Regions from separate parts of the Homo sapiens genome. Here regions 2, 3, 4 and 5 are each reported to be linked to region 1. The links are microRNA targets in miRTarBase. Many come from high-throughput screens and were not tested one by one. Region 1 holds a microRNA gene; each other region holds the end of a gene's coding sequence.

Region 1 (6,019 bases):
GGGGGCAAGGCTGCACCGGGCCAAGGCGCCACCCCCATCCCAGCCCAGGCGGCGGTTCCCAGCAGAGACCCAGCCCCACTAGGTGAGAGCGATGGTGGCCCCTTCTGTGCCACCGGCCACGCCACTGCACCCACCTACGCAGCACAGCTGCTGGTAGAGGTAGCCCCTGCGGGCCGGCTCGCAGCCCCCGTCCAGCCAGCACGGCCGCTCCAGCAAGACCTCCCTCGGCGAGGCAAAGGCGCCCCCCGCCCCCGACATGCCGGCCACGGCCGGAGCCCTGGTTCGGCCCACGGACAGTGCGGGGAGCTGGACCGCGGCGGCGCCTCTGCTTCCAGCCCACGCTGCGAGGCTGCCGGCTTCGCTCTCCACCTCTTCCACCTCCCCCCCACAATCCGCCCACTGCGGGAGCGAGGCCCAGACCCAAAGAACCTGCCCCTGGCGCGCAGCCCCGCCCAGCGCAGCCAGGAAGCCGCGCCCCAACCCACGGGCCGGGCTGGGAGGCTGCCCTGGGACTGAAGCGGCATGGGAGGGGGCCTCCCAGCAGGATGTGCGGTGGGGACTGCAGGGCCCAGGGAGGAAGGCAGGGCATGGGGCCAGGTGGTGGGCAGACAACGCTGGAGGCAGAACCGAGGAGCTGAGCCGCGTCTGGCACCACCAGGGAGTAGAGGCATCCTGTGAGCCAGGACCGTGGCCGAAGGGGGCAATTGTGGGCTGAGGTGGGGAGGCAGGGACAGTGTCTGGTCCCCAGCCAAAAACATGGATGGGGAAGAAGCCCTCAGCCCAAGTCCCATCCTGGCAGCTGAGTCCCCGGCAGCTCCGGGCGTCCCCAGCGCCACGCCTAGAAGCCCCATCTTGACTCATCTCAAGTCCGGGGATCCAGCAGAGGAGCTGAGCCAGGCAGCGCCCTCACTGCAGGAGAGGTCTGGCCAGCCAGGTCCCCGATAGGCAGTCCCTCTGGCCAGAAGCCCATAATTGAGGCTGCCCAATCCCCAGGGCCCCGCCCCATCCTGTGCTGGGCACGGTTGCCACCTGGGACCACAGCCCAGGAGCTGGTGACTTTGAGCAGGGAGGGCAGGGCACAGCCTGGCTGCCCCCGCCCCCTGTGCGGCCCGAGGGCATGAGGGCACCTGCCTCACCTGCGTGTGGCTCCACCCCCTGCTGTGTGTGCAGGGAGCCACCTCCACCTCAGTGCTGGCCGGACAGGCACCTGCCCACTTGTCCCTGCCACGGCGGCTGCCACAGGCCTCCCTTCGTGTGGGGGACGCTCCTGCCCTGCCGGCCTCCGCTTCCACCCACCTGTCCCGCACAGGCTGCAGGCTGAGGGCCACTGCAGAGCCCGCCCCGCCCTGGGACTGCAGCAGGGTCAGGGTCTACACTGCAGGGTGGGGTGGAGGGGCAACACTGCTTTCACTGACATTCAGCTTGGAAACAGGAAGGGGAGGGCGCAGGGAATGAAGGGGCGGGAGGCAGGCGGCCCCTCTGCCCCGCCTCGAGTCCCTGGCAGCCACCAGCGGGGCTTACCTTGCTCGTCCTGCGCCCACCGACGTCCCCTGCGCCAGTGCCACACAGCGGCCAGGGTGACAACGTGACCCACAACCACCAGGGAGGGAAACAGGCTGCCCGAGGGCTCCATAGCCGCCACGCGGAGCCGCCAGGGCTGCCCTTCCTGCGCTGGGAACCGGCTGCTCCAGGCTAGACAGCCCCCTCCCTGCGTGCAGGGCGAGCGAGGGGGAGCGCCGGGACCGGAGCCTGCCCTGCCCGCAGGACCGCCCCATACGCGGCGGCAGCCCCACAACAGCTCCCGCCCGCCTCCTCTCCTCCTCCCTCCGCGGGTCCGGCCCTCGGCGCCTCCCCACCCTCGCTCCCCACCCGGCCGGCTCAGCTGTCCCTGCGCAGGGCTACTGACGCTCAAGGTTAGTTGGCCTTAACCCCTGCGTCCCCGCGGCCACACCCGCCGGGAGGAGGGGCCAGCCGCACGCCTGGCCAAGCCGCAGCCCCCCAGCACTGCCCGCGGCCTCGGCACACACCCTCCCTCCCTCCCAGCCTCCCCCTGCTGTCCCCACCAGAAGAGGGGCCCGAGCAGCCCACTCTGCCTCCAAGGCTGCCCTCTGGGGACAGCTGGCAGGCATGGAGGGATGCCAGAGCCCCCACCTCAAGCCTGCAGCTGAACCCACTGCACTCCTTCAACTTCGCCCTCCTCACCAGCCCCAACACCCCAAAAGTGAGACTGCAGACCAGGGCTGAGGGGGTCTGGGTGAGGGCACATGAGGCAGGCTGTGTGCAGGGCGAGGGACAGCGCCCCTGGCCTCCAGCCTCAGCCCCAGCCCTCTGGCCCCTGTCCCCAGCAAGGGGCCAGGATTTCACAAGGCTTTCAAGGGCTGCCCACCTACCGGGCACGATCTTCATCGGGGACGGTGGCAGGAGCCCACGGGGCAGACGGAGCGGGCCAGGGGTGTGGGAGGTCACAGGCCCCTCGGAGGAGGCACAAGCCACTGGCGGCAGCGTCGGGTGGGAGGAGGGCACGGCCGTGCTGCTGTCAGCAGCAGCTTGTGGGGGAGGGGAGCAGTGGGCAGGGGCCCAGGGGATATAAATATCCGAGGAGGGCGCGCAAGGACCGTCACCACCCAGACTTGGAACATGACGCACGGCGCCAGGGCACCCAGGCCCCGCTGCAGTCAGGTCTGGCTGGACGGTGCCACCCGACACCTCGGTCCCCCAGCTCCCACAGGGGGTTCTAATATAATAGAGCAGGGCGCGGGAGGTGCGGGCTCACGTCCCTGCAGGAGGCGGTGCAGTCCCCACCCACCTGCCCTGCCAAGCCAGGGGGTGCTCTTGGAAAGGCCACAGGGGCCAAGAGAAGAGGCCGCCCATTCTCCCAGAGGGCCCTGCGCAGGTCACTCAACACAGCACCTGGCCCCACCGGTGGCCGGGACAGCCACCCCAAAGTCACGCGCAGGCCAGAGACCCAGGCAGCCCGAAACCAGGGCTCAGGCCTGCGCCTGCCCCACAGCACAGCCTCTCCTGGGGTCCCAGGGATCTGGGATGGAGACGCCTCTCCTGGGCCACGGCAGGAGACTGGCCTGGCTCCACCCAGGAGTCCCGAAGCCCTGCTCTGTGGAAGGCCTGGGTCAGAGAGCCGGGCCACAGGCAGGCCCACAGCATATCCTATGCAGATCAGATCCCAATGCAGCCGGGGAAACAGGACGTGGGACACGCACAGTCCTGCTCCTCTTCCTGGGACCCCTGTCTGCTGGGCGCACCCCTCAGGCCCAGGAGAATGCACGTTGACGGTATACCCCATTCCACAGCGTCGCTCCTGGCACCACATGGAACCCTCAGCAAACCCCATGAAGTCCTATACCATGAAGGCCTCATACAGACCAGGAGCCTGAGGCGCCGCCTGCTGTCCCGCACGCTGCCATCTGAGCCCAGGTGGCCTCCAGTGTAGTTACCTCAGCCCACAGCAAGGCACAGTGAACCAGCCTGGCCCCGGGCCACTGGGCAGGCCACCCAGGTCCATGCTGGGAAGCCCGCGGACAACAAGAGGGCCGGGCCCACCCCAGCCTCCTGCTCTCCAGCCCCACACCTCAAAAACGTGCGGCCGAGGGAAATGCCTGCAGTGGCCCACTCTGGGCGGCCAGGGGTCGGGCGGGCCCAGGCAGCCCTGAGGGTCAGGGATACCCAGGCATGCCAGAAAGGGCCCAACTCCCAGCTGAGCCCAGGACAGCATCTGGCCAGCAGTGGGCAGGGGCCGACAGGCCGGACGTTTCAGCCCACTCCCTGCCACGTGCTGGGGAAGCCTCAGAGGAGCCTGACTCAATGGCCTGGGTGAGAACCAGCTCCTGGCGGGAGGAGTGCCCCAGGCTGGCAGCGGGCAGTTCTTCTACCACTCCACGGAGGTCCGGACAGGCCTGTGCTTCCGGGACACACATCACACACACCCCTGGGGCAGCTCCGAGAGGGGGCTGTGCCTATCCCTGCATCCCAGGTCTGACGGCACAGAACGGTGGACAACGGGAAGAGACAGGTCTGCCAGAGGCGGCCCCGGCCCTCTCCTCTGCCTCCCACAGCCCCCAGCTCTGCCTGCCCTACCTTGGCCCAGCTGAATCAGCTCCTCCATGCTGTACCTGTCCATGGCTGCCACACAGGCCAGGCTGCTCCGAGAGCCGGCAGGGAGGAAGGCGAGGCAGGAAGGAGGGAAGGGGTGGGAGGCAGAGGGAGGGCCCACTCATGCCCTGGTAGCAGCGGCTCCTCCTCGCAGCCACCCCTTAGTCAGTAAGCAGAGATGAAGCCCAGCCGACTGACGGGTCAGACCAGCCCAGCAGACCTGCCTGGGGGTGCAGGGGACTGGCCTGCCTGCAATCCCAGAGAGCCCTCCGGCCCCAGCCCACGGGTCTTCCCTACTGTTCCTGCCCCGCCCAGCAGACCCCCCGCCCAGCAGACCCCACCCTGTAGCCTCCCCTTCCCGCTGCAGGCCCCACCAGCCCAGCCCTGCCCTCCCACCCTCCCACCCACATTCCAGGCATCCATGTGCCCAGCGGTATTTCAGGAGCCAGGCGGGAGCAGAGCCCCAAACTGCCCACCACACCCCACTCCTTGAGACTCACATTCCTCAGCCCCAAAGGTGGTCTCTTCCTCCACCTGAGTCCTCCCCAACCAGCACAGCCCCAGGCATCTGTCCAGGGGCAATGGTGACACCTGCCTCCCCTCTCCATACCTCTCCACCCAGGTGCTTGCTGACCAGTGAAGTGCAAATCAAATCCCATCGTAACTACCCCTTAGAAGCCTGCCGGCGATCTACAGAAATCCCGCAAACGGGTGACTCGGCCAAGCCAGTGATCCCTGTGGAAAGCTGGCCGGGCCATAGTCCCTCCACCTAGAGCACCCTGTGGCTGGGAAGAAGGGCAAGGCAGCCAGGCCACCTCCAGGCTTCCTCCTTGACGCAGGGCCACAGAGGGTCAAGGGGGGAGGTCAAGGCACAGGCGTGTCCTCCGTGTAGAGGGGAAGTCATGGTGGCTACCCAACCCCTGCCCTTTGCTGTGGGAAGCAGCTCTAGGTGCTGTGCGTGTACAGCGCTCACCGTGGTGGCGGCTACCTGGCCCCTGCCCGTTGCTGGTGCATGGACAGCGCTCAGCTGGCGTCTCCTCCACACAATCCTCGGTTCCTTCAGAATTTTGAGCCAGGCAAAGCATCGCCATTTGCAATGTAAATTAGGGCTGGGCGGTAGCTATAATCCCAGCACTTTGGGAGGCTGAGGCAGGCGGATCACCTGAGGTCAGGACTTCAAGACCAGCCTGGCCAACATGGCGAAACCCCGTCTCTACTAAAAAAAAAAAACAAAAATTAGCCAGGCATGGTGGCTCATGCCTGTAATCCCAGCTACTCAGGAGGCTGAGACAGGAGAATCGCTTCAACCCGGGAGGCGGAGGTTGCAGTGAGCCAAGACTGTGCTATTGCACTCCAGCCTGGGCAACAGAGCGGGACTCCATCTCAAAACAATAAGTAAAATAAAAATGAAACGTAAATGAAACTCACATATAAAAACACATTCCTACAGCTTCCCACCACACCAAGCAACTGAAACTCTGCCACAGGCCCAGGGCCTTCCCATGGGTCCTCTCCCTCTGGCCTTCCGGCCTCCCTCTGTCCCTCTCTCTGGGCTGCTCCTGGCAGGGTAGGCACCTCCTCAGAGCCCTCCCTGATTGCTTCTGAAGCCACCTTCCCATCACGCTCTCCTCACCCAGTTCACCCCACATATCTGGAGCCCCCTGGGGCAGGGGCTCCATCTGGGTCTGGCCCTGGCCTGTGCATGGCTAAACAAGCAGGTGGACGGATGGCTTCCCACACAGATGTGTTGCTGGCAGGCCCCCATGGGCCCCACCCAGGGACAAGCAGACCACCAGGGCACAGGGAGGGCAGGGGCCTCACTGCAGGGGTACAGCTGGTGCTCCCTAGCCAGGGCTGGGTGGAGAGGGGCAGCCCATCCAACAGGGCCATCCTGGACCAGCACAGTTGGCCC
Region 2 (6,019 bases), not on the chromosome of region 1:
ACAAAAAAAAAAAAAAAAGAAAAAGGATTTTCTCCAGCAGCAACCAGTGAAAGATGAGGCGAGGCTTGAATGGAGCCCGTGGGTCGTCCTGCCTTAGCGTCTGAGTTCAGCTTGTGAAGTTAGTGGGCCGCAGAGGGCACTGCCTTCATTCTGCTAAGACGAAAAGGGCTGGTGGGATCTTCGCAAGAGAGTCAGGGACTCACACTCAGCAAAAAGCATTAGGGCCGATTTTAATGTGCGACCTTGACCTGCATCTGTCATGGAAAGTGCCTTCTAAAAAGCTTCAGTGGTGGATGTGACCATCTGAAGGAAACAAATGTACAAGGAAGCACTGTGTATCCTAAGCCCTGGGTTCCCAGAGTTTCACCTGCTGTTCATCAGGTCTGGCCTTCATATACCCGTACTGCGAGGGCTGTTTCCAATGTAAATAAATAACTGCGCAACAGTTCCTTCCTCCTTTCCTTTGTTCCTCCCTCCCCCCGGCCTTTTTTTTTGGCAGATGTACAGTTTGTTTATAATCACTGCATATGTCTTCTGCACACAGAAAGTATGAAGTCTGAAGTTCCCACTTAAAGTTGAAAACTCAACGGCCGGGCATAGTGGCTCACACCTGTAATCCCAGCACTTTGGGAGGCCAAGGGGGGTGAATCACAAGGTCAGGAGATCCAGACCATCCTGGCCGACATGGTGAAGCCCTGTCTCTACTAAAAATACAAAAATTAGCTGGGTGTGGTGGCACACACCTGTAATCCCAACTACTCAGGAGACTGAGGCACGAGAATCGCTTGAACCCAGGAGGTGGAGGTTGCAATGGGCCGAGATTGCACCACTGCACTCCAGCCTGGATGACAGAGTGAGACTCCATCTCAAAAAAAAAAAAAAAAAATTTAAAGTTGAAAACTCAACATGCATGAGGCAGAACAGGCTGTGTTTGTATATGAAAGGCCCAACAATGGAAGGATACAAGAAAATGATGGCAGCAGCTGCATCTAGTGAGGGAAGCAGGGGCTGGGGATCAAAAGGTACAAATTGCCCATTCAAAAAATAGACACAGGCCAGGCACAGTGGCTCACACCTGTAGTCCCAGCACTTTGGGAGGCTGAGGTGGGAGGATTGCTTGAGTCCAGGATTTCGAGATCAGCCTGGGCAACATGGCAAGACCCCATCTCTACAAAAAAATCAAAAAAATTAGCCAGGCATGGTGGCTCATGCCTGTAGTCCCAGCTACTCAGGAGGGTGAGGTGGGAGGATTGCTTGAGCCCGGAAGGTTGAGGCTGCCATGAGCCACAATTGCGCCACTGTCCTCCTGCCTGGGTGACAAAGCGAGACCCTGTCTTGAAAAAAAGACAAAAACAAAAAATAAGCACAAAGATACCATCTGTCTTAGAAAATACTAAGATAACTTGACAGCTTTTTAAGTTCTGCTTTGTGAAATGTTAGTAACTAAAAAAATCAGAACATTAGAAACTGTGTGCATTGGGGAGAAACAATTTGAAAGAGGAGGGAATGAAAATGAAATAAAAGTAAAAAGAAATATTAACTCGGGTAAATGAATATGTTTATTTAAATATGTATACAAGCATGGCCCTAGGAGCAGCAGATACACTTTCCCAAAGGTGGTTGCTTCCTTTAAGATATTGCACAATAGAAAATAAACTCTTGTCAATCCTTAAAATTAGTCTTCAATGCTATGTATTTTAGCTATGTAACTTGTACTGTGTCAACAGTGAACCTTATTAGATTCACGGTGTCATCGAACTTATAGCAAGATAAAAATCAATCAGTAGGAATGTCATTTTAAAAAGTAAAATAGTGGGACGGTTGTGGTGGCTCATGCCTGTAATCCCAGCACTTTGGGAGGCTGAGGTGGGTGGATCATTTGAGGTCAGGATTTCGAAACCCGCCTGGCCAACATGGTGAAACCTCACCTCAACTAAAAATACAAAAATCAGCCAGGCATGCTGGAGGGCACCTTGTAGTCCCAGCTATTTGGGAGGCTGAGGTAGGAGAATCGCTTGATCCCAGGGGGCGGAGGTTGCACTGAGCTGAGATCACACCACTGCACTCCAGCCTGGGCAACACAGCAAGACGCTATCTCAAACAAAAAAAGGAAGTCAAATAGAGCTTTAAACCTGAATCATTTACATCTTTACTTTATAAAATGTAAAACTACTTTTTTACCCAAGACTTAAAATATAGAATTATGTAACTTCTACTTTAAACAAAATGAAAAATGTTTTGAGTATCAAACAGTATATTATCTACCTTGTAGACAGCATCTTCATCTAACACTGCCACTGTGTTAGTAATTCTTAAATGACATCAAACTAGAAGAAAAGCTGCTCCTACATTGTTTTTATTTAATAAGACAAATTTGGCACTAGACTTTTTCTAGAAATAGCATTCATAGTCTATCGATATAATAGTAACATCTTGTTTTAGGTTAATGAATTCCTATTAGGAAGCAGCACTTTGGGACAGTTTTTAGTGACACTAATTTAATTCTATCATTACAGTCCTCTGACCTGCCTTAATTCCAGGATCATCTGAATTCTAGGTTAAGGAATGATTATTAGCCAAACCTGGAAACAACTACAAATTGTACTGATATAGGTAACCCCAATTTAATAGTGACTAAAAGTCATAATTGTCACCATTAAAAATAGCCATATTTCATATCTTCAACACTATTCTATTTACAATACTTTATATAATAAATAACTTACAGCAGTATAGTAACACACCTCAAAAAAGTTCTTTTTTCACTAATTCCTAGAGGTTTCTTGGTTACTTTCCTTCATAAAAACACATCAAATGTGAGTTTACACTATGAGAAAAACAGGATTTGAGAACAGATAGATAGATATTTTCCATTATGGCACAAACGTTTAAGGCCGAGTCAGCACCGGAAATGTTCAGGGCCTGAACATGTTTGTTTCCTCACATTAGTACCAAGAACTGTCTGAGTTGAGAAGGCTGAAAGGGGAGGGCAGCTTCTTCTTGACCTGAGGCCGTGCAGCCCCGACCGATGGGAGGCACAAGGTGCTGGCTGACTTCTGTCTGTTCTTGTTGGTGCCCCAACTCAGGAAGGAAAGCTTCTTGGAGATTTTCTTGGTTTTATCAGTTTTGTCGTCATCATCAATGGCTAAGCAGATCATGGAGTACGTTTTCTGCATTCCCACGGAGTATGTGGCACTCTTATTATGCTGCACATAGAAAAGTAAGAAAAAGGGCGTCAGGCATCATCAAGATAGATGATAAAAACTACGAAGTTTGGCCAGGCGCGGTGGCTCACACCTGTAATCCCAACAGTTTGGGAGGCCGAGGAAGGCGGATCACTTGAGGTCAGGAGTTCAAGACCAGCCTGGCCAACATGGTGAAACCCCATCTCTACTAAAATACAAAAATTAACCAGGTGTGGTGGTGGATGTCTGTAGTCCCAGCTGCTTGGAGCCTGGGCACAAGAATCACTTGAACCCAGGAGGTGGAGGTTGCAGTGAGCTGAGATCACACCACTGCACTCCAACCTGGGTGACAGAGCAGGATTCTGTCTCCAAAAAATAAATTGAACAGACATAATTCGGAAACTCAGGTGACCAATGCTTATATAGAATTAGGTTCTTAAAACAAGGACAAACTTTTTTTCTTTTTTGAGACAGGGTCTTGCTATGTTGCCCAGGCTGGTCTTAAACTCCTGGGCTCAAGCGATCTTCCTGCCTTGGCCTCCTGAGTAGCTGGGGCTCTAGGTGTGCACCACCAGGTCCAACAAGGATAATTTTTTGTTTGTTTTTTGTTTTTGTTTTTTAAGACAGAGTCTCACTCTGTCGCCCAGGCTGGAGTGTAGTGGTACGATCTCGGCTCACTGTAAGCTCCGCCTCCCGGGTTCACGCCATTCTCCTGCCTCAGCCTCTCTGAGTAGCTGGGACTACAGACACCCGCCACCACACCTGGCTAATTTTTTGTATTTTTAGTAGAGACGGGGTTTCACCCCTTCTCGATCTCCTGACCTCGTGATCCGCCCGTCTTGGCCTCCCAAAGTGCTGGAATTATAAGCGTGAGCCACCACGCCCGGCCCAACAAGGATAATTTTTAAGGAATGTACTCAATAGTAACAATTTAAGCTTAGGAGCCACAACTCATATTTTAAGGTTCTTCTTCTATTTGAGAAAGTAATAATACTCATGGTCACGAATATGAAAGTACAGGGTGGGGCGCGGTGGCTCACAACTACAGTCCCAGCTACCTGGGAGGCTTAGAGGGGAAGATTGCTTGAGCCCAGGAGGTTGAGGCTATAGTGAGCTGTGATTGTGCCACTGCACTCCAGCCTGGGCGACAGAGTGAGACCTCTGTCTCAAAATAAAAAAAAAGGGGGGGGGCGGGGGGAAGGGAAGAGGGGAAAGGAAGGGAAGAGGGGAAGGAAAGGGAAGAGGAGAAGGGAATGGAAGAGGGCAAGGGAAGGGAAAAAAAAAAAAAGAGTATGCAGTGAGCAATAGGTCTCCCTGTCACCTGGGCTTCTAAGGCCCTCCATGTTATACTTCTAGAGATGATGTACAAGTATTTCTATATGTACCTAAGTATATTACCATTCATTTTCTTAAAAGGAATATACTACACTATTCTACACCTGATTTTCTTTTTTTCTTTTTTTTCTTTTTCCTTTTTTTTTTTTTTTTTAAGATGGAGTCTCGCTCTGTCGCCCAGGCTGGAGTGCCATTTTTATCATTTTCAAGTGTAGAGTTCGGTGGCATTAATTACATTCACATCATTATGCTCCACTGCCACCATCCATCTCTAAAACTTTTTCATCTTCCTCAGCTGAAACTTTGTACCATTAAACACTCTCTACTATTAACTTTCCAAGAATCATGTAGGATTCAAACTGGAAATCTAAGGAAGCTTGCTTTCTGAAGACTTCCACATGGGCTATCACCGGCTTCTAAGGTTTGCCTAACATTGAGATTGTTTAGTTCGCCACATGTTTATTGATGGTCTACTATGTTCTGGCACTAAAATTAGGCATACAATATATCGCTGCAATAGTTGAGGACATTGTTCCTAATATAAACCCTAAGAGGGGCCGGGCACAGTGTCTTACACCTGTAATCCCAACATTTTGGGAGGCTGAGTTGGGCAGATCACTTGAGGCCAGGAGTTCAAGACCATCGTGGCCAACATGGTGAAACCCCATCTCTACTAAAAATACAAAAATCAGCCAGGTGTGGTGGTGCACACCTGTAATCCCAGCTACTCAGGAGCTGAGGCAGAAGAATCACTTGAACCCAGGAGGCGGAGGTTGCAGTGAGCCCAGATCACGCCACTGCACTCCAGCCTGGGCGATGGAGTGAGACGCTATTGCAAAAAATAAATAAATAATAAATAAATAAATAAAATAAACCCTCAGAGGAATCTGAGTTATGCAGCAATAAAGTAGGGGGTACTTCGAGCCCCTAAGGATGGAGATGCCTCTTCCTTTTCTGGAAAACTGACCGCTAACTCCACCATGTTTTACGGAGCACACACAATGTCATTTAAAACAATAATAAAACGAATAATCCTGGAGACAGATGTGAGGCCTGAAAGCATTTCCCAACCCTCAGCTGCTCAAAGTCCATTGTGTATCAAAACCACTGCCTTATAAATACCCTCAGTTCTCTTCCATCTGCCCCCACTCGCTCATCTCCACCCTCTGCCTCCCCTAGGGCCTGTATCTGAAAGGTTGTGCGTTGCTGGAGGACACTCACCAAGGCTTCCCTTGGAATTCTAACCTGACCCCAAACCTCTAATAGGCACCCATTTCCTGGCACTTCTGTGTGTCCCTAGTAATTTCATTTCCTTTTCTCCTGTATACTTGTTTCTTATCTTCGCTCTCCTCCTGAAGCCACTCACGCACCCTCCTGACATCCCTGCCGTATACTTCATGGCATCCGTCCCCCAAGACCAAGCCCTTCTGTGTGCCTGGATCCCATTCCCTCTCTCCTCCAGGCACCCTTGCCTCCCAGATCTCTACACACACACACAC
Region 3 (5,940 bases), not on the chromosome of region 1:
CTCCCGGACCTTCGTGGAAGAATCCATCTACAATGAGTTTCTCGAGAGAACCGTGGAGAAAGCAAAGCAGAGGAAAGTGGGGAACCCCTTTGAGCTGGACACCCAGCAGGGGCCTCAGGTGGACAAGGAGCAGTTTGAACGAGTCCTAGGCTACATCCAGCTTGGCCAGAAGGAGGGCGCAAAACTCCTCTGTGGCGGAGAGCGTTTCGGGGAGCGTGGTTTCTTCATCAAGCCTACTGTCTTTGGTGGCGTGCAGGATGACATGAGAATTGCCAAAGAGGAGATCTTTGGGCCTGTGCAGCCCCTGTTCAAGTTCAAGAAGATTGAGGAGGTGGTTGAGAGGGCCAACAACACCAGGTATGGCCTGGCTGCGGCTGTGTTCACCCGGGATCTGGACAAGGCCATGTACTTCACCCAGGCACTCCAGGCCGGGACCGTGTGGGTAAACACCTACAACATCGTCACCTGCCACACGCCATTTGGAGGGTTTAAGGAATCTGGAAACGGGAGGGAGCTGGGTGAGGATGGGCTTAAGGCCTACACAGAGGTAAAGACGGTCACCATCAAGGTTCCTCAGAAGAACTCGTAAGAGCAGCTGTCAGGGAGGCCCAGTCACAGTCCAGCAATTCCACAACCACCTTGACGAATGCTTGCCAAGCTGTTTTAAAGCCAAGAACACCCTTTCTTTGTTCCAAATTAACTCTTAGAAGAAACCCCACAAATAAAGCAATTCAATCAAGGCTGTTCTATTTAAATCAGAGATGGGGACCAGGCTCAGAGTTCTACCTATCTAACCCCCAACCACAGCCCCCTTGGTGGCCCATGAGTTGCTTCCATGAAATCTTAGGAGTCTCTGGAGGACAGATTAAAAACCAGTGATCTGTAATTTGTAGCTCTTCCTGCTGATCCAAGGACTTTCCCATGGGTGCGCTTGATGGTTTAGTGGATCGACTCAACTCAGAACACAAGCTTGGAAAGTGTTAGGGGTTTTGAACTAGGTGGATACTAAATCTCGGCCCCACTCTTCATTGGCTTAACCTAAAAACCAGAGGTGCTTTTCCTTGTCTGTGTGCCAGTTGCTGGCTGTTTTAGTTGCTTGCCCTTCATTTTGCTACTGATTTTCCTTAATTTGTGGGAAGGAGTAGGCAAAGAATATGCTTACATGATTACACCTGTAAAGTAAGCCCAAACATCCCAAATGTCCGTCAACTGATGAGTGGATTAATAAAATGTTTCCATGGAATATTCCTTGGATTACTCAGCCATAAAAAGGAATGAAGTACTGACACATGCTGTGACATCAGTGAACCCTGAAAACATCCTTCTCAGTGAAACAAGCCAGAGAGATGTACAAGGCTACAGACTGTATGATTCCATTTATATGAAATATACATACTAGGCAAATCCATGGAGATGGAACATAGATTAGTGGTTGCCAGGGGATAGAGGAGTAATTGTTAGTGGGCATGGGATTTGTTTTTGGGAGGTTTTGAAAATGTTCTGGAGTTGAACAATAGTAATGGTTGCATGATTTGGTAAAAATACTAAAAACTATGGAATTGTTTAATTATGGTATATGAATTAATTTCTTTCTTTTTTTCTTTTTTTTTTTTTTTTTTGACACGGAGTCTCACTCTGTCGCCCAGGCTGGAGTGCAGTGGTGTGATCTCGTCTCACTGCAACCTCCGCCTCCCAGATTCAAGCGATTCTCCTGTCTCAGCCTCCTGAGTAGCTGGGATTATAGGTACATGCCATCACACCTGGCTAATTTTTGTATTTTTAGTAGAGATGAGGTTTCACCATTTTGGCCAGGCTGATCTTGAACTCCTGACCTCAGGTGATCCACCCGCCTCAGCCTCCCAAAGTGCTGGGATTACAGGTGGGAGCCACAACACCCGGCCATGAATTAACTCCGTTAAAAAATAAACGTATACATTCTGTGAGCAAATCCATTTTGTCTCCATATTGTCCTGCTGCTGAACATTTTATAGAGTGTGGGGGATGGAAGGGACCCAGGTGGTCTAGTCAACCCCCAGTCAGGTGCAAAAGTCCCCTCCCCAATGTTTCTGTTTTTGTTTTCTCTTGGATGGGTGACAAAGTGCAACTGTAAGACCCGTAGAGAAAAACTCTGGTTCCTGCTCAGAATGGGCCCATCTTGTTGGACTCGTTTCCACAGCCCCCCACCCCTTCCAAACCATACCCACCCTTCAAGCCAAGCCTAGCATGGGGGCCACCTTGACATGCTGGGGATTTCCAGAGTTTCAAACCTCAGAGTTCATAATGTTTATTGTTAGTCTTGCTACATTCATTCCCCAACTGATGGGAGTGAAGGCAAATCCAAGCCAGCCAGGCCACAATACAGAAGCAGAATGCTGAGCCTCCCTCTCTCGGTCCATCTTTCTAGACCATGCTGCTTACAAGCCACCTTACGTTCAAGTCCCCCCATTCCTGTAAATGCACACCCCACTCATCTCTGCTTCCCAGGCTCAAGCAATCCTCCCACCTGAGCCTCCCAAGTAGCTGGGACTACAGGCACTCACCACCATGCCTGGCTAATTTTTTTTTTTTTTTTGGTATTTTTTGTAGAGATGAGGTTTCACCATGTTTCCCAGGCTTGTCTCAAACTCCTGGTCTCAAGCAACCCTCCTGCCACGGCCTCCCAAAGTGCTGGAATTACAGGCATGAGCCACCATGCCTGGCCCCAGTCAACTCTTAAACATCCTATTGTCTTACCTAGGCAACATGATGATTTTGTTTATTATCATAACTTGGGTTTGGCTGGAAACTGCTGCTTGAGGGTTCAGAGTCTGTTTGGTTCCCTCACCTCCCTTCCTAGGACCTCCTTTCTACACCATTTGTCTACAGCTAAGGTGACCCTGACACTCCCCCATAGTGCACCTTCTACGGATTTCTCTGGGAGGCTGTTGGCACCTCTGTTGCACAGCAGCGAAAGTTTCTCATAAACGCACTGGGACATGGAAATGGGCGGCTGGGTGTCTCTAATGATTAATGTGCAACATCACAATATTTTAACAACTCCATTCCTTATTTAAGTTTCAATACTCCTTAACCAAAGACGAGCTCTGTAGACAGTGTTCCAGTATGGAATGGGATTGGAAAAGACAATCTTCATGGTCCCTTGTTTTGAGCCCTGAAATTCTGAGAGTGAGGAGCCTGTAGGTCAGATTGTTAATAAACTCAGCCATCACGGCTCCTCCACCCATTTTTAAATTCTTTTAAAAATTTATTTATTTATTTATTTATTCATTCATTCATTCATTCATTGAGATAGGGTCTCATTCTGTTGTCCAGGGTGGGTGCAGTGGCACGATCATGGCGCACTGCAGCCTCCACCTCTTGGGCTCAAGCAATCCTCACACCTCAGCCTCCTGAGTAGCTGGGACTACAGGCATATGTCATGATGCCTGGCTGATTTGTGTATTTTTTGGAGAGACAGGGTTTTGCCTCATAGCCCAGGCTGGTCTTGAAGTCCTGAGTTCAAATGATCTGCCCACCTTGGCCTCCCAAAGTGCTGGGATTACAGGCGTGAGCCAGCAAGCCCAGTCCCCTCCACTCATTTTACCACTGTGCTGAATGCACAGACTTGTGAGCAGGGAGGTTTAACTGGGTGTCCTCATTCAGGCCAGACACTGCCCACCAGACTCACACTTGGGAGATGTTGCAATTCTGGGGCTTCCATCCACTTAGCAAACTCTCACCAAGATCTTACTCCATAAACACTATGCCAGGCACCTTGCCATGCTATGGAAGCCTCACAACCATCCTATAAAGCAGGTAGTGGAGTAATGGAGTTACCACCCCACTTTTTTCAGGTGAGGGAAAGGAAGTGGAGAGGTTTAATAGGGAACTCTTCTGGAATCAGTTCCCCATGAGCATGCACGAGGGACCAGAGAGCGGCGCATACTGGCAAGCACATGGAACCAACCCTCCAAGCCTGGAGAACCCACGGCAAAGCCCAGCAAGCCCTACACACCCAAGCCAGCCACTGTGCTGGATGCATCAGAGCTGCTGCTCAGTCCCACCGGTTCTCCTCAGACCCGGGGCCATTTAGGAACTTTCATTTGGGTTGGCTCCATTCTGGGTGTGAGGCTGACCTCTGGTGGCCACCTGATTCATTAATTCACACAAGTAACTCTTTGGTTTAAGAAAAAACAAAGGGGTTGGGTGGGGGGCGATGGTCCTGCTCTAGGCCTATTGTTGGGGGAAAGAGAATTGAGTAAGACAGTCCCTTCCCTGCAGGAGCTCACAGTTGGGCAGGGGAGACAATTACAGAGCCGGGTGGACAGTGCAGTGAGAAGCACAGAGGCCGTGAGATCATGAGCGGAAAGCAAGCCTCTGTATCAAGCACACACGGTGGGCCACCTCCCTTCATGCTTCTTTCTTTTTTTTAATTTCGTGATGGAGTCTCGCTCTGTCTACCAGGCTGGAGTGCAGTGGCGCAATCTTGGCTCACTGCAACCTCTGCCTCCTGGGTGCCTCCTGAGTAGCTGGGATTACAAGCAGACACCACCACGTCCGGCTAATTTTTGTAGTTTTAGTAGAGACAGGGTTTCACTTTCTAACTGCCATCAGGGCCCTCAGTATTATTCTTCTGCACTTGATAGACATCAAGCCTGGGAGGTGTTCAGCAGTGAGTGGAGACAGGCTCAAGCTCAGGTCCTCTGATTCTGCCAGACACCGCTGCCTCCCAGGGCTCCCAGCTCAGTTCAGGCACAGGCCCAGTGGGAGTGGGCATGGGGTCCTGCTAAATGACTAGCAGGGGACCAGAGGGATAAGGGAAGGATGCTCCTGGAGTCTGAGAAATATGGAGGGTTGGAGGAAGGGCAAGTTTTTCCATGAGGAGGAAAGAGGCAGGGAGGAAAAGCATGGGGGCAGGGGGCAGGCAGGGGCTGGACTGTGAAGGGGCTCGTGCATCCTTTCAGAAAGCTCACACTTGGTCTAGCAATGGGAGGGTGCTTTTTGGTTTTGCTTTTGTTTTTTAAACAGGGTCTCCCTCTGCCACACAGGCTGGAGCACAGTTGCTTGATCATAGCTCACTACAGCTTCAAACTCCTGGGCTCAAGCGATCCTCCCACCTGAGCCTCCCAAGTAACTGGGACTACAGGTGTGTGCCATCATGCTGGGTTAACTTTTTTAACATTTTGTAGAGATGGGGGACATCTCGCTGTGTAGCCCAGGCTGGTCTTGAACTCCTGGCCTCAAGCAATCCTCCTGCCTCAGCCACCCAAAGTGCTGAGATTACAGGTGTGAGCCACCATGTCTGGCTGCCCCCGAGGGCTTTTAAAGGAAAGTGATAGGATCACATTCGGTTTCTGAAGCTGGCTCTGCTTCAATGTGGAGGATAGATTGAGGGAGTTGACCTGGAGTCAGCACCTCTCAGGACATTGTTGCTTGCGCCCAAAGTGATGCTGGCACACCAGGGTGTGGGGTGGGGGCAGAGTCTGGACAGCCAGAAGGCAGGCTTCAGGGCATGATGACAGATGGACAACTTGGCACAAGAGAGGAGAGAAAGTTGGGTAACCTCATGTTTCTGGCTGCAGTAACCACGTGGGGGGTAGTGCCAGCCACTGCAACCACCCTGGAGGTTGCACGTTTAGGGACACGGTGGGACTCTTACTTATGTATTCCTTTGTTTAACACATTTTATGGAATGTTGTCTATGTGCTAGGAACTATTCTAGGGGCAGAGGATACAGCAGGAAACTAAAAAAAAAATAAAATCCTGAACATCCTTTCTGATAGAAGAGGCAGACCATATGCAAAACAGGTGAAATCGTTAGTCTGTCAGGAGGTGAAGGGTATTATAGAGAACAACAGTGCTGGGAAGGGAATAGGGAAGTGGGTGGGATGGAGTAGACATTGTAATTTTCAGTAAGGTGCTCAGAGGTCGTCTCACCAAGAGACTGGAGCATGCCTGGAG
Region 4 (6,019 bases), not on the chromosome of region 1:
GAAAAAACAGCTAGCTATGACAGAGGAAAATAAAAAGGAATCTCAGCCTGCTTTAGAATTGAGAGCAGAGACCCAAAATACCCACAGTAATGTAGCAGTGATCCCAGAAAAACAACTTGTAGAAAAAAAAAGTCCTGACAAAACAGAAAGTTCTTTACAAGTGATTACAGTTACTTCAGAACAATGTAATACAAATGCACTCACAAACACACAAACCAAAGGACGGAAGATTAGGAGGCATAAAAAAGAAAAGGAGGAGAAAAAACGAAAGAAGCCAGTTTCCCAATCCCTTGAGTTTCCAACAAGATACAGTCCTTACAGACCTTATCGATGTGTTCACCAGGGATGCTTTGCTGCCTTTACGATACAGCAAAACTTGATTCTCCATTACCAGGCTGTACACAAATCAGATCTACCTGCATTTTCAGCAGAGGTCGAAGAGGAAAGTGAAGCTGGTAAAGAAAGTGAAGAAACTGAAACTAAACAAACTTTGAAAGAATTTCGATGTCAGGTAAGTGACTGTTCTCGAATTTTCCAAGCAATTACTGGCCTAATACAACACTACATGAAACTTCATGAAATGACTCCTGAAGAAATTGAAAGTATGACTGCTTCAGTGGATGTTGGGAAGTTTCCATGTGACCAGTTAGAGTGTAAATCTTCATTTACTACATATTTGAACTATGTTGTTCATCTAGAGGCAGACCACGGGATTGGACTAAGGGCAAGTAAAACAGAAGAAGATGGTGTATACAAATGTGATTGTGAAGGCTGTGACCGTATATATGCAACCCGGTCGAATCTCCTCCGACACATTTTTAATAAGCATAATGACAAACATAAGGCTCATTTGATTCGTCCAAGAAGATTAACACCAGGCCAGGAAAATATGTCAAGCAAGGCAAACCAAGAAAAATCAAAGTCTAAACATCGGGGGACCAAGCACAGCAGATGTGGAAAGGAAGGAATAAAAATGCCCAAGACCAAACGAAAGAAAAAAAATAATTTAGAAAACAAGAATGCAAAGATTGTGCAGATTGAAGAAAATAAGCCTTATTCTCTGAAACGTGGGAAGCATGTATATTCTATAAAGGCTAGAAATGATGCCCTGTCTGAGTGTACAAGCAGATTTGTAACCCAGTATCCATGTATGATAAAGGGATGTACTTCAGTTGTTACAAGTGAAAGCAATATAATTAGACATTATAAGTGCCATAAATTATCTAAGGCATTTACATCACAACACCGAAATCTTCTTATTGTATTCAAACGGTGTTGCAACTCACAAGTAAAGGAAACGTCTGAGCAAGAAGGTGCTAAGAATGATGTGAAAGATTCTGACACGTGTGTATCAGAGAGCAATGATAATTCAAGAACAACAGCTACAGTTTCACAAAAGGAAGTTGAAAAAAATGAAAAAGATGAAATGGATGAACTAACAGAATTGTTTATTACAAAATTAATAAATGAAGATAGCACAAGTGTAGAGACCCAAGCTAATACTTCTTCAAATGTAAGTAATGATTTTCAGGAAGATAACCTCTGCCAGTCAGAAAGACAAAAAGCAAGTAATTTGAAGAGAGTTAATAAGGAAAAAAATGTCTCACAAAATAAAAAAAGGAAAGTTGAAAAAGCTGAACCAGCATCAGCAGCTGAGTTAAGTAGCGTGCGTAAAGAAGAAGAAACTGCTGTTGCCATTCAAACCATTGAGGAGCATCCTGCATCTTTTGACTGGAGCTCTTTTAAGCCAATGGGATTTGAAGTATCATTTCTGAAGTTTCTTGAGGAGTCTGCAGTGAAGCAGAAGAAAAATACTGACAAAGACCATCCGAATACTGGAAACAAAAAAGGATCCCATTCAAATTCAAGAAAAAATATTGATAAGACTGCTGTGACTAGTGGAAATCATGTATGTCCTTGTAAAGAAAGCGAAACGTTTGTACAGTTTGCCAATCCATCACAGCTTCAGTGCAGTGATAATGTAAAAATTGTTTTAGACAAGAATCTTAAAGATTGCACTGAGCTTGTCTTAAAGCAACTTCAGGAAATGAAACCTACCGTCAGTCTGAAAAAACTTGAAGTACATTCAAATGATCCAGATATGTCTGTTATGAAAGATATCAGTATAGGTAAAGCCACAGGCAGAGGTCAGTACTGATAATTAATGTAGTATAAATACATCATTTACCATTTTATTTTAAATAGGAAGCCATCAAGCATGCTAGAATTGTGAAACTTTCATTATATTTTTTTGTTGTTGACATGAATTAACCTGGCCAAAAACAAAAAAGAAAAAAAAAACATGACATTTGTCATGTAAAACTTTTTTTTATCCCTATGGGACTTGAGGAACAGAATCAGTACTTCAGTTATTGTAAATAGTGAGCTAAACCTCAAATTTCTATCACCCAGTTGCCCTTTTCATGAACTAAACAATTATCTGTGTGATTGGTATGTTTCACCAGGTCACTGCTCATGTATAACAGTACTCTTTATTTGTAGATACCTTTTTTGTATATATTTATTATTGTAAATCATGTGCTGCCACCAGCAGTCTGTAAGTCTAAACTATTAAATGACACATTTATATTTGGAATTTTAATTTTTAACTAAGCGATCAAGTTTTTTAAATTGTTCTTTTATTGTTTTAAATTAAGAACTTTTTGAACTAAAACCAGAAACTCTGCCATAGTTCATTGATTTTTACATGAAACATTTATTTACAAGATGATATCAAGATTACTTTTCACAAAATAGGCACATTATATCAACACTTTGCTCTGCTTTGTAAATTTGCCATCCAGGATTTTGGGGTGGTATTCATGTGAAATTAAAGCAGATTCTCTAGCAGTTTCCTATAGCTACAGTTTTTTTTTTTCATTGCTTCTAATTGGATATAGTTACTATGAGTCCATGAAATACAATGGAAATGTGAATAAAGAATTTACTACATTGAAGATTTTAAACATTTGGTATTAAAAAAAAATCCTTTGTGAATGTGATAGAAAACTAGTAGTGTGGAGCAGTGTAAATATTTGAGGTGGTGATTTGTGAAGTAGCCCAGTATTGCCTTAAATAAAATCACATTTCATTTCTTGTTTTATACATGTGATCTTATAAAGATTTTTTGTTTTGTTTTGTTTTCCATTTTCTGAGATTTATAGATTGGTGTATAGCTTTAAACTGTATAAAGTTTTGTGGAAAGATTTTTTTAAACATTTTTATAAATCTTAAAATTGATATCATCAAAGTGAGCCCATCTTGTGTTTATAAAATACAAGAGTCCTTAACATTTATAATTACATAGATAAAACACTTTCTATAAGGAAGTTGGATGTTTTGATTTTACTGTTTATAGATGTTAGATTGTACAGATTTGTCTGTATTTCTCACCATATCTAATGATACTTTTTTCATTAGATTGGTCTTCAAGAACAGTATTAGTTATAATTATTTTGGTTATTCAGTATATAGTTAGCTCTTACAGTTTAGCTTTATTCACCATATTTATACTGTGGATTCACAGCGAGAGGTAGAGGTTATTCCAGGAGAGTTGATGACCTTCATTTAAAGTCCAACTAAAATCAGTAGTAGAAACATAAGAAAACATCTTTGCAATATTTACTTTTGTTTCTGTTTGCCGTAAATAGTAACATTGTTTTTTTTTATTTTGTGTTTGTTATAAAACAGTTGCATTCACAATATTATTGGCCTGAGATATTGATGATATTGTGATGGTATGAAAATGTGTACATTCCCTGTGCAACATCAGATTTGCAGGAAAAATGAAGCACTTACTGAAATCGCTGGTACTCTGAATAAATAAGCATGGTCAAGGAGTGAACTATTTTCTTTTGGAAATTTCTTTTTAATTTTTATTATTAAAGTATTTTATTTTTAGGGCCTTTTGGGTTTTATTGAATAGTTCATTTCACCTGTTTAAGACTTACTACCAATAAGCATAAAACCTGACACGTTAAAATCCCTGCCCTTTGGTGAGCCCACTGTTATTTATTAAAATAAAAGTTATTTTATGGGTGATTAATACATGGGTTTTCTTTTTCCTAAATTAACAATAATTTAAATAACTGAGTAATTTTAATATTAAATTTTTGTTAACAACTGAATGTTTCCATACAGTTTTCTTAGAAATTGACCTAGCTCTTAAAGGTGGGCACTTGGCAAAACTGCCCTATATAGCACAGTAGCAAGTAGGTTTATTTCTGATCATTGTAACTATGAGCCACTGTTAAGTGAAAATGCCAATGTATTGGGGCTTTTCTTTTGCTCATTAGCTTAAGAAAATTTATAACTAGACATTTCTAATTGTTTTACATGTCATGGGGAAGAGTTTGCCAACATTTAATGAAATTTTTATATTCCAGGTAATGTATACTAAAGGTAATTATGAGAGTGGGCTTTTTAGCATGAAACAAAAAAAATCAAACTATGGTAAAAAGACATGAATTTATAGAATAGCATGTTGGTAAATTTTGATACGGAATGTAATGTCTAAGTATTAAAAAATCATAAAATATATTTTTTTCATGGTATACTTTTCCCCAGCCTATTGTCTTGAGATATCTTCTACAGCCTAAATTTGCTAAAGTTTCATCACTAAAAAGTAGGAGTTTTTCCTCTTCTGAACCCGCAAAGTTTGCATATTACAGGTCAGAATTGTATTATTCAAAATACATCACCTTAAGTGAAATGTAACAGTTTTTGAAATTTTCAACGGTGTTAAATTTAACATAGGTACATTATTATTTTAAAGGGCTAGACATATTTTTAAGGCAAATTTTTATCAAGTGAGCAGTCACAGTTGCTGTAGATAATATGAAAGTACAATAATACTATACCTAGGGACATCAGAAAGAATGCCCTATTTTTCTGGAAAAGGAGGTAGGTAGTTGGGAAAGTCTTTGTAGAAAATATGAGTTTTGAAAGATGAATGAATGCTCATTGGTTCAGGGGGACAAGGGAATTCCAGACTTGGGGGTAGAGCGTAATTGCGGTATTGCCAGTGGGCCACTTGGAAAGATAGGAAGTTGAAGAAGGTGAAGCTGAAGAAGCAGATGGGTGGTGGGATCAGGAGTGTTCTTGTATGCTGTATTAAGTCTTTATTTTGGTTTTTGAAAATTGTTATTGGATGCATGTATATTGAACAATTTAATCAGTATCAGTTTTAGAAAGATAATTGTCATGGTATAGTGGATAAATTGAGTAAGTTGGAGATTAATTAGGGGGACCTAAAATAGTCCAGGCAAAAAATGATGGGAGCCAGAAGAAAGGCTAACGAAGTTGGGGAAGAGACTAATGGATAAGAGAGATAATAAAAAGTAATGTCTAAGGCAGCCTGTTTCAGCATGTTTATTGTAGTGAGATACTAGGCAGGTGGAAGGTTATTGCTGTGATGAAATAAGTTTTCTAAATTGTGTGCTGTAGTTCTCTCTCTCTCTCTCTCTTTTTTTTTCTTTGTTTTTTTTGGAGACAGAGTCTCGCTCTGTTGCCCAGGCTGGAGTGCAGTGTTGCACGATCTCGGCTTACTGCAACTTCTGCCTCCCAAGTTCAAGTGATTCTCCTGCCTCAGCCTCCCCAGTAGCTGGGACTACAGATGCATGCTATCACACCCAGCTAATTTTGTAGTTTTGGCACAATCTCAGCTCAGTGCAACTTCCATCTCCCAGGTTCAAGTGATTCTCCTACCTCAGCCACCCAAGTAGGTGCACACCACCACACCTGGCTGATTTTATATTTTTAGTAGAGACGGTTTCACCATGTTGGCCAGGCTGGTCTTGAACTCCTGACCTCAGGTGATCACCCACCTCCACCTCCCAAAGTGCAGGTATTACAAGCATGAGCCACCACACCCAGCCTCTCTTAAATAATTTAATGCATGTTTGCATATTAAAGACAAAAGTTCTACTGTAAATATGTAAAAAGTTGAAAGGGAATTTTCCAGACTTAATTGACCCTGAGAACATTTTTCTTCTTTTAATGTTAATACTTAGTTATATCC
Region 5 (5,626 bases), not on the chromosome of region 1:
ATGGTTGGGTGCCGTTTCTTCCAATCAGGTTCTGGTGTGTGTTTTATTTACTTACATTTACTACATTTCCTAGTTATACAAGTAATACATGTTCTTTAAAGACATTTTGAAAAATACAGAAAAAAAAAAAGGTGAAAGTGTTTTGGAAATCAGCACTGACCAACATCAGGCTTACTTCTTTTTTAAATTTTTGCTAATTTCATAGGCAAAAAAAAACTCTCTGTATTATTTTAGTGTGCATTTATTTCATCACAAGTGAAGTTTGGTGCTTGTAAAGACTGTGTTTTCAGTGGACTTGTACAATGTTTAAATTCCTCTCCTGCAGGCTCCTGAGTCCTATAAGAATGTGACAGATGTGGTAAATACCTGCCATGATGCTGGAATCAGCAAGAAAGCCATTAAACTGAGACCAATTGCTGTGATCAAAGGATAGAACCTTGGACAGCAGGGCTGCCTGACACCACCAACCCTCTCTGAAGTGGAAGTGGACTGACATGCTCTTCTGACATCAGACTCAAGGCGGGACAAGTTGCAAAGTGTGCAGCTGTAACTGCTCACGCCAAAATGGCTGATGGGGAGGCTGCTGCTTTCAGGGGCCCGTGCTTGTAAAATAACCTTCCAGGAAGAGGCACATTGCCCACCTTTGGAAAGGGAGGAATATGCCTTCTCCTTGGTTGTTCCACAGAGTTTTAGGAAAATCTGTTAGGGATGGGTAGATGTCAAACTGCCTTACGCAGTCATACTGATCTTTAGCCATCAGATTGATCTTCTTCACACCAAGCTCTGTTTACATTCCGAGAGGTGTCATGAAGAAAGTTCTGTTCAATAAGGTTTTGGAATGTTTCCTTTCGTCTGTTGCTTTGTCAGTTTGTCCATTCATCCACCCATTTAGGCATCACCCCTGCACTCAGCAAAACCCTAAATACCCCTCTTACTTGGAGAGCACCCAGGGAGTTGTAATCAGGCTGTTAGATGAATGGATAGTGGAACACATTGAAGAGGGAGTATGGGGAGGTTTAAGGAATAGCGGCCCAAAAGACAAAGTCTTCATAGCTTTACTACCTTTCTTATTCTAAATACACGGCAGAGTTTTTGTATCCATGGGGCCGGGTGAACAAAATGGAGGTAGGTGGTGGTGCTGGTGATGGAGGGCACAGCAGAACCAGAGGCCTGGCCTCCCTCCTACACATGCCTTGCAGGGCTTTTTTTTTTTTTTTTTTTTTTGAGACTGAGTCTCGCTCTGTCACCCAGGCTGAAGTACAGTGGCGGAATCTCGGCTCACTGCAAGCTCCGCCTCCCAGGTTCACGCCATTCTCCTGCCTCAGCCTCCCGAGTAGCTGGGACTACAGGCGCCCGCTACCATGCCCAGCTAATTTTTTGTATTTTCAGTAGAGATGGGGTTTCACCGTGTTAGCCAGGATGGTCTTGATCTCCTGACCTCGTGATTCGCCCGCCTCAGCCTCCCAAAGTGCTGGGATTACAGGCGTGAGCCACCGCGCCTGGCCCTTGCGGGGCTTTTTATTGTGGTTCTGGGCCCCTGGCTTGTTGCTTCCTGTGTAGAGGACAGCCCCACTCCAGCCCCAGCCATCTGTGCTGTCTTGATAGGGGCAGACCTGGCCATGCAGCAGGGCTATACAGACCCTTGCGGGCCCCGGCTTCCTACTGACATTCTCTTCCCAAAGGCCCTGGCACACAGTGCTGAGCACCTGGGCACTCACAACTGCAGCTCCAGGCAGATGTGTGAGCAGGTTGCCCATCAAAACTCCAGCTCTGGGCCACTTGGTGCTTGGGTTGGGAGAGGCAGATGTGGCATGGAGGACAGGCAGAGATAGGAAACCCCTGTGCTGGGAATGGTTCTCTTGGGGGTCGGCCCTGGCCATAGCCTCCCCTATATTTTACTGGGGACCTAAGGTGCCATCTACAACTCTCCTTTCCTTTTGTAGGGAAAGTCCCTAGATCTCAACTTTCTCATGGGAATCATAAGAGAGATGAGACCCAGGGTTTTTTCAGTCTCTTCCCAGCTACAGTCCACATATTTCCTCCACGTATGTTTGGAAGTCAAAAGACCCTTCAGAACCCTAAATCCACCCAGTTTATACTTGTTCCTGGGCTATGTCATCCTAGTCCCAGAACCTGGGAAGATGCCACCATACCTAGAGGAGGCCATGAGGCTGTCACATCTAACATTCTGTGGATATGACCTGCTTATGCGCTCTACTGGAAGTATCTGACACTTCAAGTAGAATTGAGGCCCAGGCATTGTCATCTGCTTTCTTTACTAAATTATGCCAAGCCACTGGAAAAGTGACTGCATAAATTACATTTTTCATATATATCTGTTGAATGAATGAACCTCAACCAGAACCTCTACAGATACCTGAGTGAGCCTGGGGCCCCTCCTTCAGGACCCAAGGGACCACTGTTCTTTCTCTGTCAAGGACAAAGACCAGTTAGAAAGAATCACAGACATCCTTTACAAATGCAAAAACAGATTTGCTTTCTGTGTGCTTTTCCAAACAGGGATATGGGCCATTGAGACAGCATGCCCAGAGCTCCATTGAAGGGAAAGATAATAAATGTGAACTATAGCATGCTCAGCAGCCTTTTCACAGAGCCAGGCACTTGGGACCTGCTTGCCATGCCTTAGGCCATTTAGTTCCCATAAGAACCCTATGAGGTTCATCTCACTGCTTTACAAAGGAGCAAACAGGCTCAGAGGGCTTCGGTGACATCCTCAAGACACAGCTAGTCGGAGACAGTCACCACTGTGAGTTGGAGGGGATGGACATTCACCTGGTAAACAGTTCCTCCATGAAGTCTGGCACGGTGATAAAGTCCCAGGAGGGGCCCAAACAGGTGGCATAGGAGGAGATGGTTCTACCCAGAAAGGCTGGAACCAGGGCCTTCACCAGTTTCTCCCCTGTACCTATCTGGAATGTTCGCACCCTGTAAGTCTCCTCATTTTCATACTGGGGTGACAAGGAGAGACCTGTCATTGACAACACCATGAACCACCAGAGGATTGGGATCTGGAGCTCACACAAGGAATCCCCAACCCTTTGGAGACTTGTGGATGTGGAGGACATGGGTTCCCATGGTGGAAAAGGTTCTAGACTTTAAAATTTGACATAAGAGTGGAGAATAGGGCGTGGTGGCTCACGCCTGTAATCCCAGCACTTTGGGAGGCTGAGGCGGGCGGATCACGAGATCAGGAATTTGAGGCCAGCGTGGCCAATATGGTGAAACCCTGTCTCTACTAAAAAAAAAAAAAAAATTAGCTGGGCTTGGCGGCATGTGCCTGTAGTCCCAGCTACTCGAGAGGCTGAAGCAGAAGAATCACATGAACCCGGGAGTTGGAGGTTGCAGTGAGCCAAGATTGCACCACTGGACTCCAGCCTGGGTGAAAAAACAAGACTCAAAAAAAAAAAAAAGTGGAGAATAATGAAAAACATTAGTGCCTTCAAGGCATCCTCACGGTGTTTGTCAGCTGTGAAGCAGTGGCACCTGCTGTATTAGTAGCCTACAAGAGCATCATCCCAGTGAGTCCTCAAAAATCATCCTCATGGTAGAGATGAGGAGACGCGGGCTTTTGGATGTCAAATGGCAGTGCAGCAGCACCTGGGTCAGAGCTGAGCACCTTCCTGGCCGGGCGTGGTGGCTCACGCCTATAATCCCAGCACTTTGGGAGGCCGAGGTGGGCGGATCACAAGGTCAGGAGATCGACACCATCCTGGCTAACACGGTGAAACCGTGTCTACTAAAAATACAGAAAATTAGCCAGGCATGGTGGCGGGCGCCTGTAGTCCCAGCTACTTGGGAGGCTGAGGCAGGAGAATGGTGTGGACCCAGGAGGCGGAGCTTGCAGTGAGCCGAGGTCACGCCACTGCACTCCAGCCTGGATGACAGAGCGAGACTCTGTCTCAAAAAAAAAAAAAAAAAAAAGAACTCAGCACCTTCCAGAGGGAGGGCTACATGAAATCCCCTCTAGGCCACCTGAAGCTCCACTTCTGATATGGAGGGAAAGGGCCTGGGGAGGCCTCGTCCCCTCCTCATTTTAGAGACAGTGCACAGGACAAGATGCTTTAGAAGAATGCTTTAACTTAAAGGAATATAATTGGATTTCATCCTTTAACATCAAAGGGAGTCTGGAGAAACAGCTAAGGCCATTTCAGCCCTTGGCAGGGGGAAAATGCCGGAAGACTCCAGGGTGGGAGAAAGCCCATCACAAGGCCCAGGATCTGAGAGGAGACTCACTTCTTCCAGGTCCAATCCCCTATGCTCCTTCCGTCCATAAGACCTACTCAAAGGCCCCACTGGGCTTCTGACCACTCACCAACCCCCTATTCTTACCTGTTCCTACCAACTTCTTACCTGTTCCAAATTATGCAAAAAAAGTGCCCCCTCGTCACCCTGGGAAGACCTGGAGGCAACTAAGGCCCTAGGTTTGAGGAGACAGTGCTGGGCCAAACCTCCTTGATCTTACCAGTTCTGTGACCCTAGAGAAGTTTTCTGGTGTTTTGGGGCCTCCCCAGCCCTGCAACATGCACAATGGGGTTTTGCTAGCATCTCCTTCCTGGTGAACTCATCAGGTGTCTTTGAGATAAATCTTATAAAACTCATTGTTTGGTGTCCCCTGTAGATACTGCACACGCTTAGAGATGGAAGAATTTCAAGAAGAAGTGAGGGGTGAGAGGTAGCATGGAATACAACTCCAATGGGCTTGGGGTCCACAGTGTGATCTCGAGAAAGGCATTTTTGCTCTGGGCCTCGTTTTCCATGCGCACCAGTAGAGGCTGAGATTATATGAAATTCAGCCCTCATCGTCCTCTGACATTGCACTTTCCAGTGCCTTCTGATTCTATTTAGAACCAGACCCTGTGCCTCATCTCAGCCTATGGTGGGCAGCGTCCGCAAGGATCACAGCACTGAGGGGTTAGTGACGCCTTTCTGAATAGAATACAACCCAGATGATGGGATAGCACTTCTATGCTAGTTCAGGCTGTTAGAGCAAAGAGCCATAGCCTGGGGAGCTCATCCCCAGGGCAGACAGAATTGTATTTCTCCCAGTTCTGGAGGCTGGAAGTCGGATATCAGGGTGCCAGCCTGGTTGGGCCCTGGTGAGGACTGTCTTCTGTGTGGCAGACTGCAGACTTCAGGTTGTGTCTTCGCCTGGCAGAGAGAGGGAGAAGAGAGCTCTCTGGGGTTCCTTTTAATAAGCCAGCAATCCCATTCATGCGGGCTCCACCCTCAGGACCTCATTACCTCCCACCTCCTGATACCATGAGATTGAGGGTTAGAATTTCAACATGTAAACATACGATCAGGCATGGTGGCTAAAGCCTAGAATCTCAGCACTTTGGGAGGTCAAGGTGAGAGGATTGCCTGAGCCCAGGAGTTTGAGAGCAACATGGGCAAAATAGGGAGCCCCTGTCCCTACAAATTAAAAAAATATATATTAGCTGAAAATGTTCGCATATTTCTGTGGTCCCAGTTGGGAGGCTAGGACAGAAGAACCACTTGAGCCTGGGAGGTGGGTGCTGCAGTGAGCCATGATGGCACCGCTGCATTCCAGTCTGGATGTCAAAGCAAGACTCTGTCTCTAAACAAGTAAATACATTTGGAGTGG

The links. Region 1 holds the annotated microRNA hsa-miR-661 (UGCCUGGGUCUCUGGCCUGCGCGU, at 2,949-2,972, opposite strand). A microRNA usually pairs through its seed, bases 2 to 8, with sites in the 3' UTR of a target mRNA and lowers its output. Matches are read on the target gene's strand: a 7mer-m8 pairs with bases 2 to 8, a 7mer-A1 pairs with bases 2 to 7 and ends in A, and an 8mer does both.
Region 2: miRTarBase lists RHPN2 as a target of hsa-miR-661. Seed matches in the 3' UTR shown: 7mer-m8 at 2,070-2,076.
Region 3: miRTarBase lists ALDH1B1 as a target of hsa-miR-661. Seed matches in the 3' UTR shown: 7mer-m8 at 1,642-1,648.
Region 4: miRTarBase lists ZNF292 as a target of hsa-miR-661. Seed matches in the 3' UTR shown: 7mer-A1 at 5,260-5,266 and 7mer-m8 at 5,510-5,516.
Region 5: miRTarBase lists RTCB as a target of hsa-miR-661. The part of its 3' UTR that is shown has no 7-base or 8-base seed match.

The regions. Positions count from the first base shown.
Region 1 is chr8:143,942,258-143,948,276 of GRCh38, forward strand. It overlaps MIR661 (microRNA 661), which reads right to left and starts at 3,022; the gene lies at 2,934-3,022. It overlaps LOC124902040 (a long non-coding RNA gene), which reads left to right and starts at 1,607. Exons shown (of 2, transcript XR_007061144.1): 1 at 1,607-1,913; 2 at 3,309-5,530. It also overlaps a transcript of PLEC not described here. RefSeq lists silencers at 124-583, 1,654-1,923 and enhancers at 804-1,053, 4,452-5,239, 5,240-6,019.
Region 2 is chr19:32,977,051-32,983,069 of GRCh38, forward strand. It overlaps RHPN2 (rhophilin Rho GTPase binding protein 2), which reads right to left. Exons shown (of 15, transcript NM_033103.5): 15 at 1,542-3,206. The coding sequence ends at 2,946. FAAP24 (FA core complex associated protein 24) reads left to right here. Exons shown (of 5, transcript NM_152266.5): 5 at 1-1,179. Among named protein-coding and RNA genes, the nearest start is that of FAAP24, 7.8 kb to the left of the region's middle.
Region 3 is chr9:38,396,714-38,402,653 of GRCh38, forward strand. ALDH1B1 (aldehyde dehydrogenase 1 family member B1) reads left to right here. Exons shown (of 2, transcript NM_000692.5): 2 at 1-1,948. The coding sequence ends at 589. Among named protein-coding and RNA genes, the nearest start is that of ALDH1B1, 7.0 kb to the left of the region's middle.
Region 4 is chr6:87,259,644-87,265,662 of GRCh38, forward strand. ZNF292 (zinc finger protein 292) reads left to right here. Exons shown (of 8, transcript NM_015021.3): 8 at 1-6,019. The coding sequence ends at 2,158. Among named protein-coding and RNA genes, the nearest start is that of SMIM8, 60 kb to the right of the region's middle.
Region 5 is chr22:32,382,799-32,388,424 of GRCh38, reverse strand. RTCB (RNA 2',3'-cyclic phosphate and 5'-OH ligase) reads left to right here. Exons shown (of 12, transcript NM_014306.5): 12 at 326-843. The coding sequence ends at 433. It overlaps LOC339666 (a long non-coding RNA gene), which reads right to left. Exons shown (of 3, transcript NR_038918.1): 3 at 4,082-5,169. It also overlaps the pseudogene RGL4P1. Among named protein-coding and RNA genes, the nearest start is that of RFPL3S, 14 kb to the right of the region's middle.